Regions from separate parts of the Homo sapiens genome. Here all the other regions are linked to region 1. Evidence: fine-mapped expression QTL. A gene starts in region 1. Each other region holds a variant in brackets. All regions are shown on one strand. Distances are between the middles of the regions.

Region 1 (5,568 bases):
TTAGAAACAAATTATGCTTATATTGAATTAAAATTATAATACTATATTCTATTGTTTCATATACAGATTAATGCATGATATTAGAGGGGAAATTTTTGTTAAATACATCTAACATTAAAAATAACACAAAACAAAATTTGTAAAAACTTTGCTTCCATTTTATATTTCCAGGAAAAGTGTTTCCTATTGATATTGATTTCCTTTTTTCTTTCCTTCTTGAGACAAAAAATCCTAGAATTCTAATTTAATTTAAAACAGAATCCTAAAAGTATATGGGAATGTGGAAACCATTGCATATATTCCCATGATTTCCCAGCATAAGCACACTAAGATAAGTCTAATGAGGGGATGAGTGTTTCTTTTTATTTGAAAATATGTACAAAAAGGAGCTTCCATGGCCTCCTCTAAAACTCTTTTCAACCCACAAAAATGTTTCTTCTGTTTAGGCAATATTTCATGTGTTAATGTAGAGAAATTCTCATAATACATAGACAAGATCTGATTATGAAGTAATGTGCTACAGGCCGCCCATGAGGGTAAATTTTACCACTTTATGATCATGTAAGCTGTTTACTCGTGTATCTGCAAATATGGCTTTTGTTTTAAAATTTAGTTTTCTATGTTTGCTGTTTTGTACACAAATATTCCATTTGCCAACTAAATTTTTTATGTACAGATTAATCACATAGTGTATATGTCACATTTTGATATAGTTCAGGCCTGGCACGGAGGCTCACACCTGTAATTCCAGAGCTTTCAGAGGCTGAGGCAGGAGGATCCCTTGAGCCCAGGAGTTTGAGACCACCTTAGGCGGACAATGTTGAGACTCTGTCTCTACAAAGAATAAAATTAGCCAGGCATGGTTGTGTGTCCTAGCTACTTAGGAGGCTAAGGCAGGATGATCCCTTGAGCCTAGGAGTTCAAGGATGCAGTGAGAATTGAGCCACTCCACTTCACTACACTCCAGCCTGGGTGATAATGTTAGCCCCAGTCTCCATAAATGTATAAAATATAGTTCTCTCTGTTCTAAGGCAGAGGTGGTAGGTAAAGGGTTAAATACAGCCTATTTACTTGAGATTTTATCTTTCCCTAAAGAGATTCTTATGAACATTTAAATTTTCCTCATTTTGAATAAGAACATCAATTCCTCATGTTGCAAATTGCAGTCTTCCTCAGGAAACATGTACTCACTATCTACCTCACACACTAAAAAAGATTTTCCACCTTCACTCAACTTTCCATGTACTAATAGAGTAACCTAGATTTTAAAATGAGTCGCATCCCACATTGAAAAATGTAGGAACATGGATTTTAAGAAGGCAAGCTTTCTACTCTAAGAGACTTTTCTTTCAAGTTTACATGTTTAAATTGTGTGATAGTAAATTTCAATGCTGACAATTTAAGTTGTTTTGGAGGTATTTGGGCTATAAATATTCATGCATGCCTGTTGATTTTCAAATCAGAAATGAATCTGAAGACTATGAGAATTTAAAAATGGCACTTTAAAGCCTGCCATATGAGTCATTTTTATTTTTTAGAGTACCGACCCAATAGAACCTAAATGGTTTTACAACCTTCTGAAGTCTATGGGTAATATTGTTTCTCATTTGGTTTCATACTACAATTTCTTCTAAAGAACATGGATGCACTTGGCTGCACACATATAAAATGTATTAATTATGTTTCTATCCTTTTATAACCAATTTTTTACAAACTGAGCTGAGCAGTAACAATTCCATCAGAAAAACACATGTCGTCAATCTTCTTTGTGTGTGTGCTTTATTTTAGAGTCAAATGGTTATCTTATTAAAGTTGTGAGAAACCAAATCTTGAAATCCCCTCTTTTTAATAACAATTATTTTACACATAACTAAAGATTTAATTTAAAATTATACAATCCAGGTACACATTAGAGGACGACTGAAGTGCAATCAATTACTTCTAAAACTAATCTCTAATACTATGACTTGGCAGATCAAATGTTTAACTTTTTAAAATGTTTCTTAATAGGAATAGATATATTTCTATTACATATATATATTCCTATTATATATATAGTATGCCTTCCTTAATCTCTTTTGCAATGATACCTTGATTTTAACCCAAACATTTACATTAAAAAAGTAATTTTCCTTTTTATAAAGCCACGAAGTGAGTTACAAGTATTTCCCTTAACAAAAGTTTATAAAATATTTACCTTGAAGCAGTCTAAAAAGAAAACATGTAATTGTGGATCAGATGAAAGTTAAACTCCACTTGAAACAAGAGAGGATTATCATAAACATACCTTGTCCTTGGGTTACTCCATAAAATTCAGCTGCTATCCTTGCCGCTTCCTTGCGGTTGCCTTTCACTATGTAGAAATGACTGAGGATGGCAAGGCTGATTTTCACAAAAAGCTTAAAACAGAACAGCGAAAGTATTGTAAAGTAGACATTGGATAATTGTTGAGCAAACGGCCGATTTTCTTCTAACACCGACATTGCTGCAGAAGAATCTGCGGCGGTCTTTAGTTGGATCCAAGTCTCAAATGTGCCTGGCTCTCGTCCGGGATGCTCCTGAACAGCTGGTCCTGAGGAAAGAAAATATCAGCTGGTAGTGATGCCTACAGCTCAAAATATTTATACACTCCATAAAAGTTCTTCGCAAACTCCTATTGGTCTGAAAATATTCCATGGAAGCAATTGCATCACGTGTCACAAGTCTCCTGACTTTCCATTCTCAATATAAAATGACACTCCACCTCTGTGCTCCAAATTTCAAAATCCAGATATTGAAATATATATGCATATCCTTTCCATTTTATATATTTAGTTATCAAGAACAATTTGAAGACAGTGTATGGGGTTCCCATTGTTAATGTAAATGATATTCATATCGAGTAAAGTTGTCTATCATTTAAGGCTTTAAAATGGCACTGTACTATTTGTAGACCATGAGCTAAATCAGTACACAGTCCATGGCTTGTATTTTAATGACTACTCATCAAATTAACCAATTATGTTATTTTTACTGATTTAAAAAAACATTTTTCTTACAAGTCATTACACTGGAACATCACAGATTAATAACTTAACACGGTTCCTTCATCCAATGGACACTTTTTAAGAACTTGGTATGTGTCAAACCCTTTGCTAGATTTTGAAGTGACAAAGACAAGTAGAATGGTCCCTGCCACAAGGAACTTAGAGTCTAGTGGAGGAAATGGAAAAGAAATCAGGTAAATATAAAGAAGGTAAAAACAGGTATTAAGGGAGCACAAAGAGGAAGCATGTAAACCTGGGAGGGAGGTGTCAGAAAAGACATATCCAAAAGAATTATCAAGTAAACATACGCATTTCATCAAGACTGTCCAAAACCAAGGAAAACAATATACATTTTAGGCCTATAATCTTTGTTAACCCAAATATGTTTTATTCATTAATGAAATGCATCTGTATATAGGTATCCTTAGGCAACTTATATTTTAAAAGAGAAATAGAATAAATTATTAAGAAAATGACATACAGCAGCAATATTTTGGCATTTAAGCCAAAAATGATATGCCAAAATACAAAATATCATTTCTTACAGGGAGCTTAGTTACATATTTCTATGACTGGGTTTGGGGCCTGTTGATTGTGGTACTTGCTTCCTAATTCATTTGAGAAGTTCCAAAATAACAAAAAACAAACATAAGAAAATAGAAGTGGCCATTCTTGGAATAAGGAGCATACCCATGACTGGTCATACTAGTAAGTGTTGTGTGCTTCTCTCCCTCGGTGTATCCATTTTATGCTGAGTATCTTAACTGACTGGACAGATTTACCTGACACATTCCAACACAGGAGAAATGGCTGTAAAATAAATATGTCAAATAAAGCAGGCTGCTTCTTTCCCCAATGAATGAATGGCTCTCAGAAAATAATAATAATAATAATTAGATCTATATATTAGAAAGAAATTACCAAGCTTCTTATGAAAATGGCCCCTGGTATCATTTTCAGAGGCAGAATACTGGCTAGGCAGACATTAATTAGACCCAGTGTGCCATTTCATATGTGCTTTGGGAGTCAGTGAAAATTAACTTCAAATAGAAGATTAACAAAATGTTCCTCTCTTTCACTACTGGTAAGACTGTGTCAGTTGAGTCAATACATGCTGATTCTTCTATGGTGAGTCTTCCCTCTGGCATGATGATGCCTGACTCCACACTAGAGAGGTATGCCCGTGGACAGCTGGGCCATCACAGTGCTCTGAGTCACTGCAGACTTCCTCTTCAGTGCTTCGGGATCAGAAATAAAACCTGCCTTAGTCACGTCTAAGTGCCCATCTAAGGTTTCAGTCCTTTCTCTTTACCAGTAAGTGCTATCATAAATAATTGTCTTCGCATGAGCTAATCAGGAGCCTGGATTCTTTGGGGTTAAGAAACATTTTCATTTCACTAAGGCTGGAATCATCGGTGCATTAAGTTTAAATCCTTCTAGTTTTACTAATACAAAAAACTACAGTATAATATTTAGGATTTTATGTCAAGATATCAGGTTTTGTTTTTATGAATTACTTGATTCCCATTTGTATGTTCTGTTGGTATACTCTCCCTCAGCAAATTTCACCCTCTCTGAGTCTGCTAATTACTAAATAAAAATTAAGCCCAAATAAAATGACTCATAGCATACGAATTCTTCAAGTGGAAATTAGATGCTGTATTTTTCATATTATAAACGCTTCCAAATAACACTATGAACAACTCTGTTAATACTTAAAAGACACATAACCACATTAAAAGTATTGTGCATCTATTTTCCTGGCATTTTCATTTCGTCAGGAAAATAAAATATTGATTAGTCATTGAAGTGACTTACTGAGATAAATGTTTTTATAATATACCATGTTGAGAGACTGTGGTAGCAAGGTCTAGTTGATTAGCTCAGTATATCTCAACTTTCCTAATTTTGTTAGCTTCGATCAATCAGTCAAACTAAAGTGTTGAAACTGAACTCAACATTGTAGTACTAGAATGAATGATGTGAGAAAAGTTAAAACATAGGAAAAATCATTTATTGAGGGTACGTTGGATGCTACATGCATATATTTATTTATTTATGAATTTATTTCATCTTAGGGGGGTGAATATTATTATTCACATTTTAAAAATGAGAAAAGTTGGGCTCAGAGAGCTTTAGAGACCTATAAAAGTTAATTATAAAGAACAACACTATTTGAACATAGTTCTAACTAAAATACATGCTCAAGTTGCCTCTAAAATTTTCTATTTTTAAGCACTTACAATCTGATTGAGCAAATACGACTCATACATACAGAGATTGAGACAGAGTCACACAGATTCACAGACACATACACATACTGCCCCCACCCACGACACACACAGAAGAGATCATACAAGATTATATGTAATCAGGAACCTAAATTACTCCAGTAAGCTGCATACATGCTACAATGATTAAATAAGATGGAACTTTATGTGCGCTTACTAAGTGGGAATAAAGAAAGAGGGGCTAATACTGTTGGACTATTCAAAGCTAAGTGTTGGTGAGTGGTTTCCACTAAAACAACAGAAAGTCAAGT
Region 2 (5,568 bases), 53 kb before region 1:
CAGTTATTGTTTTACTAAATTTCTTAAATCTTATGTCACATAGTAACTATTTTGTTTCTTTTACTTTGTGAAATTTTGTCCTTGAACTTTAATGTGTGTGTATACATATATGTATATATGTATATTATATGTATTAAATATCACATATATTATATGTATTATATGTCACATATATATAAAATATGTCTTGGATTAGAAGGTCTTTGAGGTATCTATTTTTTATTCTGTGCTACTCTATCTTAATGCTCATGATTCAGTGATTTGGAAACTGGTGGTGAAAAAAATTAGTGCAACTGAGTCACTCCATGACTTTTCATTATAAAATAAAATAATGAGACAAACACAAAGTGTTTTATTCCAATGAATAATAATCACACTTTAATATAATAACAAACATACAATACATTAAAGTTAGAACACTACTTTGATAAGACAATCATACTCAAGCTAAGATACAAGGTACAGACATACTGAAATTGTAAAGTGACCATTTTAATGTTTGATATTTACTTCTCTTATTGGCACAAGACTAATAAGATAGATGGGTTGTATTACTCTTAAAATCTAAGACTTCTCCTCTAGCTCAGGGAAAATACTGGTGGAAACCTGTTTTACCCAAAAGCAGCTTTAATATCTGTTTAACCAGGTTATTCTATAATAAGAACTCCATTTTAATGCACGTTATCCATTACAAATGTGTGAGATATTCTATAAAACACATATTTAAAGGTCCCTATCCTCATATAAAACATTGTTTAGTGAATATGCTACAGCTTTATTTCTATGTTTGAAAATCTCAACAAACGTTTTAAATCACAACTGATTTTTTTTCTTTCTGCCAAAATGCAAGCTTAGTGATCTGGGGGTCACATACAATCATAATTTATTTTCCCATAGTCTGGAAGTTAGCCAAGAAGTCAGAAGAAAATAAGCCCTGGGTTGTTGAAAATAGTGGTCAAAATATTTACTTTATCAAAATTTAATAAATCTATAAAACTCACCCAAAGTTGCTTTTGTTTTACAAAGAGTTGTACGTTGATTATCTTATTTCTAAAATCATAATAGGCCCTGAATTACAAAACAGGCATAAAATTTTATTAAGTTTTTTATTGCACTCAAGTATAGTTAAAGCTGAAGAGAATAAACGTAGTATTTACCCTTGCAGAGGACTAGCTTAGTAATATCTTCTTTTATACAATACTCTCTTGCTATTACTTGCAAATACAGTATACTCTAAGCCCTTGTTTTGTGTAAAAAGAATTAGAAACAGTGCGATTAAGTTCTCTATATACATTTTTTAAGGTCTCCAATGTGTTAAGTGGCACCCACTCTTTAAAAACTCCACAATTTGAGTTTTTAATCTTCCATTTTTTTATATCCTTGGACTGATGTGATGATCCCCGGAATATGATCCAGGGCCTGTTTGTTAATTAGATATATAGTTCATTTTCTTAAGTCCAAGTATCACTAGCTATTGACAATTTCTGAAATGGAAGAAGGCTGGAGTAATATGCATATAACCGCCTTGATAAGAGATCATCAGGGGCTACTCCTGAGAAGGAGGCAGTCTTAACATAGCCTTAGAAGGTGTGTAATGTTCTAAATATCTCAGGGTGAGAGGGCAGTATTGACCTTTCATCCTATCACTTTTCTGTAACAAGTCCATGTACTATGGAGAAGAGAAGTGACTTGTGAGTCCTTTGCCAGGGGTAAGTGGGGGAGAGGGGGGCAATTTATCTTTATGAAGTGTTCATTCTAATGACCAGTGGACATTCAACATAGTGGATTTCCTGAATGAGCATCATCCTGGTTTCAGAAAACATATTAGTTGCTCTTTGCTAAGCCATATTCATATTTTATGTCAATATCAGTAACAAGTTAGCCAATTACAATAGCCAAAATTAAAAAGTTAACCCATTAGTTGAAGAACATAGACCTTTTTAAATATAATATGAATAACTTTACTAGGAGCTTTATTTCTTTCCAATCCAAAAGAAAACATAAGATAGTGACTTTATTATTTTTTCCTGAATAAACAGGAGGGTATATTGAAATAACAAAAAATAGATATTATAAATATGCTATAATCCAAAGACAGCATAAATGATAAAACAATAGTACTAATACACTTAAAATGAAAATTGATATTTTACTGCTTCCCTGGGTGATCTCACACTCACTTTTATCCTATCTTTAGCATATTTTTATATGAACTATTCCTTAAGCAAAAGAAATAGAAATTTTGATTTTCAAGGTATTTAGAATTACTTTACTGTTTTATCGATACTGTAAGAAATTCTTCAGTAACGTTGGCAGCTGGAGTTGTGGGATAAGGTGCAATCTTGGTTTTCCTATGTAGCTTCGGATACAGAGTCGGCAAAGTTGGTAAAGAGAGCTTGGGGTAGCTACAAGAAGACATGAATCTATTTGTTAATTAAAATAGAAATGAATTTTTTATGTTGTAAGGTACATAACATAAAACCATAAAAACTACAATGCTTTGTAGTAAACCTAGGATAGCATGACCACTATACTAGGGAAATTTATGTAAGCAGTTATATTGCTTTTATTTATAAGATCTTATTATAATTGAGATATATTCCATATACATTCCTTAAAATATTATAATCCTCAGGCTTAGGAAATAATTGTTGAATTTAAAGCCTCAGAAACAAAGTCTGCTTTTTGAAGGAGATATAAATCAAAAGTCCTGAGAAGTATTATGCACTAAAAGGGGAAATTTTAAAATTAAGTTTAATATTTACCCTAAAAGAAATATTATAGTCCCTGGACTAGGATTAAGAAATCCTATTTTAGAACAAAAGTCTCAAATGTAAAAATATTTACTAATTTTATTTCTATAATATGTTATAGAAGGTTCATGTCCTTATAAAATGGGGCATGCTCCAAATATAAATCAGCAGATATTATACCAGAAGTGCATATAATGCATTACTGAAACTAATTGAATATATTTAACCAAAAATATATGAGAGTTTAGGTAAGATGAAAGAGAAAATTAAAATTATCATTTTTTTTCTTTTTTTTAGATGGAGTCTCACTCTGTTGCCAGGTTGGAGTGCAGTGGCGTAATCCTGGCTCACTGCAACCTCCGCCTCCCGGGTTCAAGTGATTCTCCTTCCGCAGCCTCCTGAGTAGCTGAGATTACAGGCACGCACCACCATGCCCAGCTAATTTTTGTGTTTTTAGTAGAGACAGGGTTTCACCATGTTGGCCAGGATGGCCTTGATCTCTTGACCTTGTGATCCACCCGCCTTGGCCTCCCAAAGTGCTGGGATTACAGGTGTGAGCCACCACACTC[G/A]GCTGATATCTTCTTTATAGATAAAACCTAAGTTAAAAATCATCTACTTTCACAAATAATATTCCACATTTTATGCCATTGTTACTTTCCATGCCAACAAAAACTCTCTCACTTTCATCTATTTTAGGCAAATATATTTTGTTTTTGTAAGTTTCCACATGTATTTTTCTTACCTTCATGTTGAAGCAATATCCTTTCCACCATACTGCTAGACGTAGCTACATCTATAGGTCGCAGAAGCTCTGTATTTTTGGCATTGATATCTGCTCCAAATTCTAGCAGTAAGTTTACAATTTCTGTGCTGGATTGTTGAGCAGCAGCATGTAATGGAGTATCCCAATATTTGCCTTTCTGTACGTCAGCACCTACATGTAATACGGAGTGAAGATAAATATAAATAAAAGTTGTTAAATAAGCCAGCTGCCTCAGTGGGGATAGAAAAGGAAAGGCAATAGAGGAAGGTTATTAAGGGGACTTCAACTCTATTTGTTATGAGTTATTTCTTTATATACATATACAGTATCTACATACACATATATGCCTCATATGTACATATACATATATATAAACTGGGCACATCTGAATGGCAGAGGGTACATACATTTGTTATGTGACTCTCTGATACTTTTCTGTATGCTTGAACTATCATAATAAAATTCTTTTTAACTTTTAAATGATTCCAAAAGTAACCATACTAACTACTATTATAAAGAGTGCACAATTAAGTTCACTCATTTTTATTTTCATCATGGTTGATAGCTTTTAGAATTATTCAGGTGCTTATTTCTATTATTCTTTTCATTTATTTAAGGCAATGAAGCTCTTTGGTTTTCTTGGGAAACTCATGAATATGTGAGCTATTTAGGTAAAATGTATATAGATTTTCCTGCCATTTCTCACTTATGTAGTTTAAGTCAGTAAGTATATAAAGATATTGAGCCTTTTAAATCAAAAGGCACATTGATGATATCTGCATGAAAGGAAAGCTTTTAAAAATGCTTATGTTAAAATACAGCCTACATGCTACATTACCTATTGCACACTTACTTTATCCCAGTGCAAAGCCTGGCACATGCTGGTCATTCAATGCATTTGCAATAAATAAATGCTGTTTAGTACTGTTAAAAATAACCATCCCATTTTCTGGTACATAAACGGTTACAATACCAGAAATGTCTACCAATAAAAATGCATAAGTTCTTTTCAACTCTGTTTTCCGATACTATCTTTAAAACTAATGATGTCTTCATGAAGCAGTACAGTTAAAGTGTCCCTTTATGGCCCTTCTGCTCCTTTCAAATTTCAATAAATGTAATCATTTTCAATATTTTTAAAACAAATATAAAATGTTTCGTGAAAAAATTATATTCCATAACAAAATTTCCATAAAGAAAGCATAAACTTTGTTGGTTATGTCAATTTTATGGAAGAAAAGGGTCTGAAAATAACAATCAATCAACAATTACTAACAGTAATTTCTATATATATATATTTGTATGATATATAAATATATACATTTGTATGATATATAAATATATATATTTGTATGATATATAAATATATATATTTGTATGATATAAATATATATATATTTGTATGATATATAAATATATATATATTTGTATGATATATAAATATATATATATTTGTATGATATATAAATATATATATTTGTATGATATATATATTTGTATGATATATAAATATATATTTGTATGATATATAAATATATATGTATGATATATAAATATATATTTGTATGATATATAAATATATATATTTGTATGATATATAAATATATATATTTGTATGATATATAAATATATATATATTTGTATGATATATAAATATATATATTTGTATGATATATATATTTGTATGATATATAAATATATATATTTGTATGATATATATATTTGTATGATATATAAATATATATATTTGTATGATATATAAATATATATGTATGATATATAAATATATATTTGTATGATATATAAATATATATATTTGTATGATATATAAATATATATATATTTGTATGATATATAAATATATATATATTTGTATGATATATACATTTGTATGATATATAAATATATATATTTGTATGATATATAAATATATATATTTGTATGATATATAAATATATATATTTGTATGATATATAAATATATATGTATGATATATAAATATATATTTGTATGATATATAAATATATATATTTGTATGATATATAAATATAT
Region 3 (5,568 bases), 35 kb before region 1:
GATGTGGACTCAATAGAGAGCTAGCTTAGCAATGGTGCAGAGTTTAGCCACACCTGCTCTTCCTCAGTGTTCTCAAAATAGGAAAATTAGGGAATTAATTATAAGGAGAGGGAATAAGCAATGACATTTCATATAACATGTTCATTTCAGTAAAAAATGGCAATACCTTTTTCAGATCTCTTACCTATTTTATATATATATATATATACTTTTTTTTTTTGAGTTGGAGTTTTGCTCTTGTCACCCAGGCTGTAGTGCAATGGTGCGATCTCGGCTCACTGCAACCTCCACCTCCCAGGTTCCAGTGATTCCCCTGCCTCAGCCACCCAAGTAGCTAGGATTACAGACATGTGCCAACACACCCATCTGATTTTTGTATTTTTAGTAAAGATGGGGGTTTCACCATGTTAGTCAGGCTGGTCTCCAACTCCTGACCTCAGATGATCCACCCGCCTCGGCCTCCCAAAGTGCTGGAATAGATGTGAGCCACCGAGCCTGGCCCCTGTAAAATATTAAACCAACAATCGTCTTCACAATGGAGGTGGATTTACCATGAAGCCAGTGAAACCCTTAACCTGCACAGACTCCCCTTCTAAGACTCTGTCCCTAATTTCATGTTACTTTTCTTAAAGGAGCCCCCAAAGTGTATACAGTATAAGCTTCAGACTTGACAACATGTAGCCCATCTCTACTCACAAGTTTATAAGCAAATTAAAAATCACCAGGCATTTACTAGCCTTTATTGTATACTTTCAGACAACCACAGAGCCACAGAAATCCTTGAAACATGGTTTCAAGGGAAATAATGTCTGGCATCTCAATGCATTTCTAAAAGCCAACATCTTTCTCTTAAGACTAGCTATTCCTTTTTCACTTCTCTATTGGTTTAAACAGTGTTACCATTTCCCTCCATCACCTGGTAATAATCATATGGTCTCAAATTTAAGCACAATAATTTTCAAGCTATCAGCTATCTCAATTAACTATTACTGATCACTGGTGCCATGGATAGAGCATGCTGGATTTAACTATAAGATAGACCTGAGTTCAAATTCCAGCATAGATATTTACTAGTTATGTGACCTTTGGCAGTTAACATCTTGAAACCCAGTTTTCTCAACTGTAAAAACAAGGATGAGTCTACCTGCCTCACTGAATTGTAATGAATGTAAAGTACTTAGCACAGTACTAAATGCATTTGAAACATCACAAATACAACCCAAATTTCATTTTAAACAATTACTTTCATATATCTTCCCCATCAGCTTTTAACTACATCTTCTAAACAGAAGGAAGGATAACTTATTTAAGATAAAGATGCTTTATCTCATCTTATTCCTCTTGGCTATATATCTGTAGGAGACAAAAATAGATATTGTCAAAATTTAGTAACAATTATTACATGCATATGGATTACTCTAATCTACATAGCTCCCACGCTGATCTCTCCCACAAATTTCAGCGCCACATGTTAAAATTTACTTCTGGGGATTCACCTAGATATTTTCCTGGCATCTCAATCCATTTCTAAAAGCCAGCATCTTTCTCTTAAGATTAGCTAGTCTTTTTTCATTTCTCTATTGGTTTAAACAGTGTTACCATTTCCCTCCATCACCTGGTAATGATAATATGGTCTCAAATTTAACCGCAATAATTGTCAAGGAAACTTTATATATTGAGTGTTTCGTGTGCTTCTTTGAAAGGAGTCAGTTGTTTTTGGCCCAGTGTTTTTTTCCATTGTTGCGGTAGTTTCTTTTCCCACCTTGAGTCCTCATCATCCAAGCTCAGTCTTTGCATCTATCTACATTAACTCTTGAGGAGCTCCCTTCTAGTGCCATGAACATAAATATTATCCACATATTGATTACCCCAATTTTAGGTTTGGCTGTTCAACTTCTCCACTTGAATATCTAAATAGGTAATACAACTTAACATGTCCCAAACCGAACCCTTGATTCCTTACTCCTAACTTCTCCCGATCCGCAAATGGCAACTGCACTCATCCAGGTGCTTCAAGGCCAAAACCCTCTGCATAATCCTTAGTTTCTGTTTCTCACACCCACCAGGCGCACACCAGGAAGTCATTTTGCCTCTATCATTTAAATGTATCCAAACTTTGTATCTCAGCCTCCACCACTATACCCTAGTCCAAGCCACCATTATTCTCATCTGATGTATTGCAAAAGTCTCCTAACTAGTCAGTGTGTTTCTGCCCATGCCCTTCCAGTAGTCTGTACTAAACATGGGAGCCAAAGCAATCCTTTGGAAGTTAGAAAGAATCCCATGGCTTCCCTTCACACCTGGAATAAAATCCGAAGTCTTTGTCATGACCTATGAACTCTCCAGGCTCTGATCTCGGGTTCTACCCACTTTTTCCTAGGCCCATCATCCTCATCCAGACATACTGGCCTCCTTGCTTTTCCTTACACAACCTTCTGTTTGCTCTTTCTGAAGTACTCCTTTCTGAGACCCACATCACTTGTTCTCTGACTTTAGTGCTCTCTGAAATATCACCTTATCAGAGAGGCCTTCTTGACAACCTTCTATTAAAAAATCCTCCCTGTCCCTTCCCCAACATTCATGCTTTGTCTCCTTTCCCTGCTCTACTTTTCTTCTCAGCACTTATTACTAGAATGCTAGACCTTAGAAAGCGAGACTCAGTTGATTTCATTCATTACCATATCCTCAATACCTAGCACATCAGTGAATGTTTGTTG[C/A]ATGAATGAGTGCTCAAAGTCACATGATCACACCCAGCTTCATTAGAACCTTGTCTGAGCAGCCGTATGGAGCTTTGTAATGGGGTTAAAATCAAGGGCTGTGAAAGGAGGCATATCCGAATTGGACTCCTGACTCTATCACATATTGGCTCACTCTGTTTTTTACACTGCTAAGTTTCAGTTTCCTCACTATAAAATGGGGGCAATCATACTTACATATTCTAGTTGTTCTAAGGGTTACATGGACATGAGAAGTGTCTAACACAAAGTGTGTTCTTAAGAAAGTCAATGTTATGATTTCCATTGCATTAGGACTTAGGGGAATTAAATAACTTGCCTCAAGTTATAAACAATAACTGACAAAGCCAGGAAGCAAACTCCGTTCTTTTGAATGTCCAGTTGAAATTTTAGGGTACAATATTCTTTTCAACCCTAGAACTCATAGGGCACTTGGTGGACTGTTATTCCATAATGAGTCCATAATAAATGTAACTAACAGACTAGACAAATGAAGAGTTACTTCAATAAAAGGAAGAATTGTGGAATTGTGTTTTCTACATTTTCATATAATAATAGTATATTTGAAATAGTAGCAAAACACAGCAATACAGTACTATTAACTATAATACCTTATTGATTATAAAAGTTGTACATTAAATAAGTGAAATTTGACATACACAAGAAATCATAGTGCTTATTTCTAAGTACAACCATTATAAACATTTTAGGGTGTATCTTTCCAACTTTTTTCTAGAAACACACATTTTTTAATCAAGATACAATCATAGTGTTTGTAAGGTTTTTAACTGATTTGTTTTCATTTAAGATATCTCATGGTCATTGTTCTATGTGAAAAAATATAGTTCTACCACAAGTGATTATGATATATTGATATGTATTTAATCATATAGCTAGAGCATTATGTGTGTATTTATTTATTTAATTATCTATCAAATGATGTTTAGGTGGCTTTTAGTTTTGGGAAATCAAATATTATTACTTATCTTTGTGAATAATTATCTGCTTAGGGTAAATTCCTAAAATTTTGACACATACCATCAAATTACCTCCAGCAAGACTGATCCTATTTACATTCTCATTAACAGCACTGGGAAAATGTAAAGCTAAATCTAGTGAAAGTTTGCTAAGACTTGTCTTTTTTTTTTTTATTTTAAATCATAGCATGGGGGCATTTTTTTTATTATATATTTTTTCTTCTCCTTTTTTTCAGAGACAGAATCTTGCTCTGTCATCCAGACTGGAGGGCAGTGATGTTCTGAACATCGCTCACTGCAGCCTTCAAATCAGGCTCAAGCAATCCTCCTGCCTCAGCCTTCTGAGTCACTGGAATAACAGGTATGTGCCACTGGGCCTGGCTCTATATTTTCAGTATATTTAAGGCATGTCGAAAAAAAATTGTATAGAAAATTAGATTTTTGACATAAAACGATAGCTTATTTTCAACTTCCTTTAGAGTCTCTATCTGCATTGAAGATATGTGAGACTCATCCAGGTGAATTAGTTTACTTAATTTTTTTTTTTTAATTTTTGCCATTGACACAGTTCTATTATGTTGCTAATGCCTGCGGTTTAGTGCATAGTTAGGTAACTTACCCTTCATTTAAGAAATGACAGGATTGTCTTTATTTCTTTAATAATTGCATTCCTTCTGGACTTTAAGGACCATGAAATGATGAGACTACTTATTGCTGCTCCCCGCCTCTAGCACAGTGTCTAGCACGCAGTCAACACTGGATAGGCATTTGTTGAATTGTTGAATTGTCTTCTTTGTAGTCAACCACTTTTTTCCTTGCTGGTATATTTCTCAATTTTGTTGTTAATTATGTTGTTGAAAAGTAACAAAAAGGAAATGTGTATTGGGGTGGGGAGTAGGGATCCAGTTGCTTTCTCAAACTTTGAAAGAAATTATAGTGTTTTAGCCTATTTGAAAATATGCTTTGTATGTTTGAAAAACATAATCATTTATAATAACATTCTTCAAGCTCCAGCTATTACATAGTAAATATAACTCTTACAATCTTGGGGGGCAAGAGTCATTTTCTCTCTGAATCTGCATTTTCGACCCTTAAATTTATCATCTATCATACTGGTGTTCTACTAAAACTTATGCAAATGTATGGATATTCCTTTTTAAAAATAATTCCTCCTCTTTGGTACTGTGCTCATTCTCCTTTCTATCTTTCATAGTTTTCTATCATTATAATTAATGACTTCGTGTCAGAACACTTTTAGGAAGTTGCTCTACTCATTTTCTTGCCTAAATCATCCTCCTACTTGATGTCTAATTTACATGATTTAAAATTTCCATATTGCCTGTAAACAGTCTTTTCCTGCTTAATAGCATCTTTCCTTGTTTCCATACCAACTTAGAAACACCTGCTGAAACAGAAAGGTAAACAAACCAGAGTCTAAGAGTTTGCAGTCATGTTTAATATACAGTCACAAAAATGAGTCAGCCGATGCAGTTTCCATACACGAAAAGGCAAGAATACAGAGCAGTCCTTTGCCATGCCATACATGTGCATTTCAATCCGCATTCTGGAAAGCACCCGCAGTTTAAAGTTAGTATTTGCAAAAACAGGCCAATGTGGTTTATTTCAGGACACTGACAGATTTGAAATGGCTGCTATACTAACCTTGACTGGTCAGAATACCCCAGCTAGCTTTTCGTTTAGAAGAACATTCCTCTATACTCACTAGCCTTCTTTTCGTGAGGACCTGCTTAATGCAGTTCATTTCAACAGCAATATCTGCGGACATAGTTTGGTTGACGTTTTTTGTCTGTGACAACCAGGTGTCATAAGTGCAAATGCTCTAGCAAGAAGAAATA
Region 4 (5,568 bases), 22 kb before region 1:
CTGTGCTCTCACCTGGGCAACAGAGATCCTATCTCAACAACAACAGCAACAATAACAAAAAAGATGACCCAGGCCTCACCTCAGTCACCACCCTCTTTATAAGCTGTCCCCTAAAGCCAGCTCTTCAGGAGTTCCCAGATAAACTTAATTATTCATTACCAGGAAGTGATGAGATACGTTATGAAGCTATGCAAACATAATGAAACACAAAGAAATCCCCCATATTGACAAAGGGCTAATATCCAGAATCTACAAAGAACTTAAATAAATTTATGAGAAAAAATCAAACAACCCCATCAAAAAGTGGGGAGAGGATATGAACAGACACTTTTCAAAAGAAGACATTTATGCAGCCAACAGACACATGAAAAAATGCTCATCATCACTGGTCATCAGAGAAATGCAAGTCAAAACCACAATGAGGTATCATCTCACACCAGTTAGAATGGCGATCATTAAAAAGTCAGGAAACAACAGGTGCTGGAGAGGATGTGGAGAAATAGGAATGCTTTTACACTGTTGGTGGGAGTATAAACTAGTTCAACCATTGTGGAAGACAGTGTGGCGATTCCTCAAGGATCTAGAACTAGATATACCATTTGACGCAGCCATCTCATTACTGGGTATATACCCAAAGGATTACAAATCATGCTACTATAAAGACACATGCACACGTATGTTTATTGTGGCACTATTCACAATAGCAAAGACTTGGAACCAACCCAAATGTCCATCAATGACAGACTGGATTAAGAAAATGTGGCACATATACACCATGGAATACTATGCGGCCATAAAAAAGGATGAGTTCATGTCCTTTGCAGCGACATGGATGAAGCTGGAAACCATCATTCTGAGCAAACTATCGCAAGGACAGAAAAACCAAACACCGCATATTCTTATTCTTCGGTGGGAATTGAACAATGAGAACACTTGAATACAGGGTGAGGAACATCACACACTGGGGCCTGTCGTGGGGTGGGGACTGGGGGAGGGATAACATTAGGAGAAATACCTAATGTAAATGATGAGTTAACGGGTGCAGCAAACCAACATGGCACTTGTATACATATGTAACAAACCTGCACGTTGTGCACATGTACCCTAGAACTTAAAGTATATAAAAAAAAATTACACAGATAAAAAAAAAGAAATCCCCCATATTGATCTTGGTGTAAAATTAGTAATGGTTATTTAACTTAGGCTAATTAGAACTTGCTGTGTTGCTGTTAAAATATCAGAATTGGAAGAAGTGGGGGAAAATGTTTTACTGTATTTAATTTTAACCATAAGGGGAAAGGCTTTTACAGCTACTATAAGACTATTTATGGGTCAAGAGATAATAGGGAAAAAGGAAGAATGATGCTATTCGATGAGATTTTTCTGAGGCAATCTTCTATAAAGTCTTTTTAAAATCTTATCTTAAGAAAAAGAAGAACCTTTCAGACCACCTATCAGATACATGCAGTACATGTATTCAGGATGTAAGGAATGGACTCTGAAAGATAATTTCACTTAAACCAGTATCACAGCACTAGCCATGACCACAGAGTATGAGTGTAGACAGTCCACACCACAGTGCAGTTGCTTATTTAGTGAGTTCAGGTGCTGTGAACTGTTTCTCCAGATATTAAAGCTGAAACATGAACTACACCAATAATGATACGGGGAATGCTTTTTTAAAAATGCATTTGCAGAAGCAAACTCTCCTCAGTATACTGAATGTCTAGATGTGTACACAGCTCAAAGTGAGATACTTCCTTAAGAATGGTAAGGGGTAGCTACAAAAACAAAACAGAAAACCTTCAGAAGACGTGATGGTTAATGACAGAATGTCGAAGGCTTTCCCTCTCAATTGAAAAACAAAAATGAACACTCCCTACCACCAATCTATTCAACATCATACAAGAGGTTTAATCCATAGAATAAAGAAAGAAGAAGAAATAAAAATGGTACAACATTTAGAAAGGAAACAAAACTCTCATTATTCACAAATAATATAACTTTTCACATAAAAAATCCCTATAGAACCCATAGATTCCTATTAGAATTAATAAGAGAGCTTAGAAAAGTTCTTTGGTATGAAATTAATATACAAAAATTAATGTATTTCTCTCTGCCCTTGACAAACAGGTTGAAAATGTAAAAATTTATTAAGATATTATTTATGGTAGCATAAAACAATTTGTTACCTATGAATAAATTCAACAAATATATGTAAGATCTCCCCAGGAGACGATAATAAAACATTATTGGGAGATATTCAATAAAACCTATATAAATGAGAAACTATATTACATTTATGATTGAAAAGCCAAGTATTACAAAGTTGTAGATTCTCCTTCAAATAAATGATTTATAG[G/T]TTCAATGAATTCCAACAAAAATGCAACAAGTATTGTGCGAACCACAGAAATTACTTCTAAAATTGATACATAGAATTTCAAATTACCAAGAATAGCCAAAACTATGAAAAAATAGAAGAATGTGGGAGATCTTGTTCTGTCTATGAAGACCTATTCTAAAGCTACAGAAATCAGTTTAGTGTAGTATAGGTCCAGAGCAATGTAATTGATAAGAGCCCATAAGCAGACTCATGCATGAATAAACACTAGACTTACACAAACTGGGCACTGTAGTGACTATAGATTATGAAATATAGAACCCACTTTCCAATACATGGTGTGAATATAATTGACCATGCATTTGGTGAAAAATGGACTTACACCATACAAAAAATTAAATTCAAGTGGATGAATTTCAAAGGAATGCTTTAAGTATATGGAAGAAATACTTCCATTACCTTGAAGTGCCAAAAGATTTTTAAGATGAATTCCACAAAAAGTCTTAATCAAAGTGGAAAGGATTTGTAAATTTGACTATTTTTAAATTAAGAGTTTCTGTTCACCAGTAGAAACACCAATAAAAAGTGAAAAGTCAAGCCACAGAAGATATTTGTAAATAGTTCTTCTAAATGTTTTCATTTTCTTAACAATTTTAGGATACAAAATAACTTCTAAAACTCAATTTTAAAAAGGGGGAAGACAGATGGCCTGATAGAATAGAAGGCAAAATATTTGGCGAGCACATTGCAAAGGAAGAAGTACAAATGGTCAACAAAAATCAAAATGGCATTATTAGTCAGGGAAATGAAAATTAAACCATAATATACTCCCACATGCCCACCATATTGGCAATTTTTTATTTTTTATCTTTTCATTTTTTTGAGATTGAGTCACTCTGTCATGCAGGCTGGAGTGCAGCGGCACGATCATGGCTCACTGCAGCCTCACCCTCCCCAGGCTCTGGTGGGTCTCCCTCCTCAGCCTCTTAAGTAACTGGGTCTACAGGTGCACACTACCATGCCTGGCTAACTTTTGTATTTTTTGTACAGATGGGGTTTTGCCACGTTGCCCAAGCTGGTCTCCTGAGCTCAAGTGATCCACCCACCTCGACCTACCAAAGAGCTAGGATTACAGGTGTGAGCCACTGTACCCAGCCCACATTGGCAAATATTAAGAGTACTGACAATATGTGAATTCTCATAACCTGCTGGGGTTTCACCACAGATACAGCCACATTGGAAAACAGGGCAATACTGTCTTAGAAACTGGAGATACACAGGCCCTATGACCTGGAAATTTCACTTCTAGAGCTATAAAAACTTATTTATACTAGATGTTTATAGAAATATTGTTCATAATTGCCCCAAATTGGTAATGGAATTTACATTATTGAGAATGAATGAACCTAGATATATGTAGGCAATTATATCATACTGTTCATTGTAAAAGTAAATAACAAAAGAATATTTAGAGAATGATTCAATTAATATAGGGTTCAAAAATAGGTTAAACCATATCAATATGAGATGTATGCATAGGAGCTGAAACTAAAGAAAGGCAAGAAAATGATTACTATAAAAACTAGTCACTCGGTCTTGATGGGAGAAGGAGAAGGTATTGTGATTGAAAAGAGATACATGAAGGCTTCTGGGGTTCTATTTCGTGACTTGAATGGTTGTTATACAGGTTTACATTTTGTTTGTTTTGTTTTGCTTTTTTGAGACAGAGTCTTGTTCTGTCGCCCAGGCTAGAGTACAGTGGTGTGATCTTGGCTCCCTGAAACCTCTGCTTCCCGGGTCCCAACGATTCTCCTGCCTCAGCCTACCGAGTAGCTGGGATGACAGGCGTGGGCCACCACACCCGACTAATTTTTGTATTTTTAGTAGAGACAGGGTTTCGCCATCTTGGCCAGGCTGGTCTTGAACTTCTGACTTCAAGTAATCTGCCCGCCGCAGCCTCCCAAAGTGTTGGGATTACAGGCGTGAGCCACCGCATCTGCCCTATACAGTTTTGTGTTTCAAAATCTTGTATTAAACTCTGTAAACAAAGTTCTGACCATTTTTCCCAGTTGCGGCGTATTTTATGATCAAGAAAATACTAATTAACAAAAAGATCCCAGGTAAAAAGATTTTAAAATAGAGGCAGAGGTTAACAGAAAATGCGACACTCCCAATATGAGAAGAGAAGAGTAAACACTTGGCTCTTCTTACCCTGCTGTTCTTTATTCCAACCTGCAGTCTTAGTGGGACTCTCTGCTCTCCCTGATTGGGAGAGCAGATCTGCTGAATGTCTGCTCTACCACTGAGGGTAATAAGAGACTTCAGTTCTTCTCCCATTGGTGCTGAGAAGTAACAGGGCATCCGAGAAGACCTAGGAAATTTCTCCTCATATGAAACTGTGCTTGGTGGAGAGGATGAGAAAACATGGAGTTAGACGAGTGCTCCAGAGGGCTGGGGAAGCAAAATTTCCAACAGCATTCTTTAAGTGACCTTAGGCGATCCTTAAAAGAAAGTGAGTTGGCCGGGCGCGGTGGCTCACGCCTGTAATCCCCGCACTTTGGGAGGCCGAGGCGGGTGGATCACGAGGTCAGGAGATGGAGACCATCCTGGCTAACACAGTGAAACCCCGTCTCTACTAAAAACACAAAAAATTAGCCGGGCGTGGTGACGGGCGCCTGTAGTCCCAGCTACTCGGGAGGCTGAGGCAGGAGAATGACATTAACCCGGGAGGCGGAGCTTGCAGTGAGCCGAGATCACACCACTGCACTCCAGCCTGGGTGACAGAGTGAGACTCCATCTCAAAAAAAAAAAAAAAAAGAAAAAGAAAAAGAAAGTGAGTTAAGTGAAATATCACCTGCAAGGCCACAGGGAGTGTCCTAAAATAATGATGATTACACATTATTTGGTGACTCAGTGCAGCTGTTCTGAGTTCGGTCAAGTACATTTACGTTCTGGAATAGGGTGGCTGAGGTCACGGGCGTGATAAATTCACAAAAGGTAGCTTGGGTTCTTTGTGCTAAAAGTTTCTCTGGCCAGGAAACTGATTCACCAAAAGTCAAAATAAATGTGCATAGCATTATTTAGCATTCAGAGCTAAAAGTGGACGTAGAAATCATTTTCTTTAGCCATTTACAAATGGCTTCAAAGAGCCCGAGGAGTTCAATAAAGTACCTCAGAGTGTGCTGGCAAAGTGTGGGCTGTCTCCCATCAGGGTAGCTTCCACTCTC

Direction of the effects. Positions count from the first base shown, and alleles are read on the strand shown. Sizes are in standard deviations (SD) of each study's normalised expression. Not every link is listed here.
For the expression in spinal cord of the gene that starts at base 2,597 in region 1, allele A in region 3 goes with a higher level than allele C (large effect, 1.1 SD a copy in GTEx).
As copies of G replace T in region 4, the expression in cerebral cortex of the gene that starts at base 2,597 in region 1 goes down (moderate effect, 0.59 SD a copy in GTEx).

What was found. PIP is the estimated chance that this variant, and not a neighbour inherited with it, causes the effect.
Region 2: its variant is the best candidate, but not a certain one, in a credible set for the expression of ASB5 in cerebellar hemisphere (GTEx, PIP 0.63).
Region 3: its variant is the best candidate, but not a certain one, in a credible set for the expression of ASB5 in spinal cord (GTEx, PIP 0.80).
Region 4: its variant is the best candidate, but not a certain one, in a credible set for the expression of ASB5 in cerebral cortex (GTEx, PIP 0.51).

What each region holds. Positions count from the first base shown.
Region 1 is chr4:176,266,626-176,272,193 of GRCh38, forward strand. ASB5 (ankyrin repeat and SOCS box containing 5) reads right to left here and starts at 2,597. Exons shown (of 7, transcript NM_080874.4): 1 at 2,288-2,597. The coding sequence starts at 2,483.
Region 2 is chr4:176,213,323-176,218,890 of GRCh38, forward strand. ASB5 (ankyrin repeat and SOCS box containing 5) reads right to left here. Exons shown (of 7, transcript NM_080874.4): 6 at 3,496-3,687; 7 at 351-2,405. The coding sequence ends at 2,278. Among named protein-coding and RNA genes, the nearest start is that of SPATA4, 21 kb to the left of the region's middle. The variant G/A (reference allele first, on the strand shown) is at 3,323.
Region 3 is chr4:176,231,920-176,237,487 of GRCh38, forward strand. All of the region lies in intron 1 of ASB5 (ankyrin repeat and SOCS box containing 5), which reads right to left. Among named protein-coding and RNA genes, the nearest start is that of ASB5, 35 kb to the right of the region's middle. RefSeq lists an enhancer at 2,135-2,304. The variant C/A (reference allele first, on the strand shown) is at 2,718.
Region 4 is chr4:176,244,924-176,250,491 of GRCh38, forward strand. All of the region lies in intron 1 of ASB5 (ankyrin repeat and SOCS box containing 5), which reads right to left. Among named protein-coding and RNA genes, the nearest start is that of ASB5, 22 kb to the right of the region's middle. The variant G/T (reference allele first, on the strand shown) is at 2,363.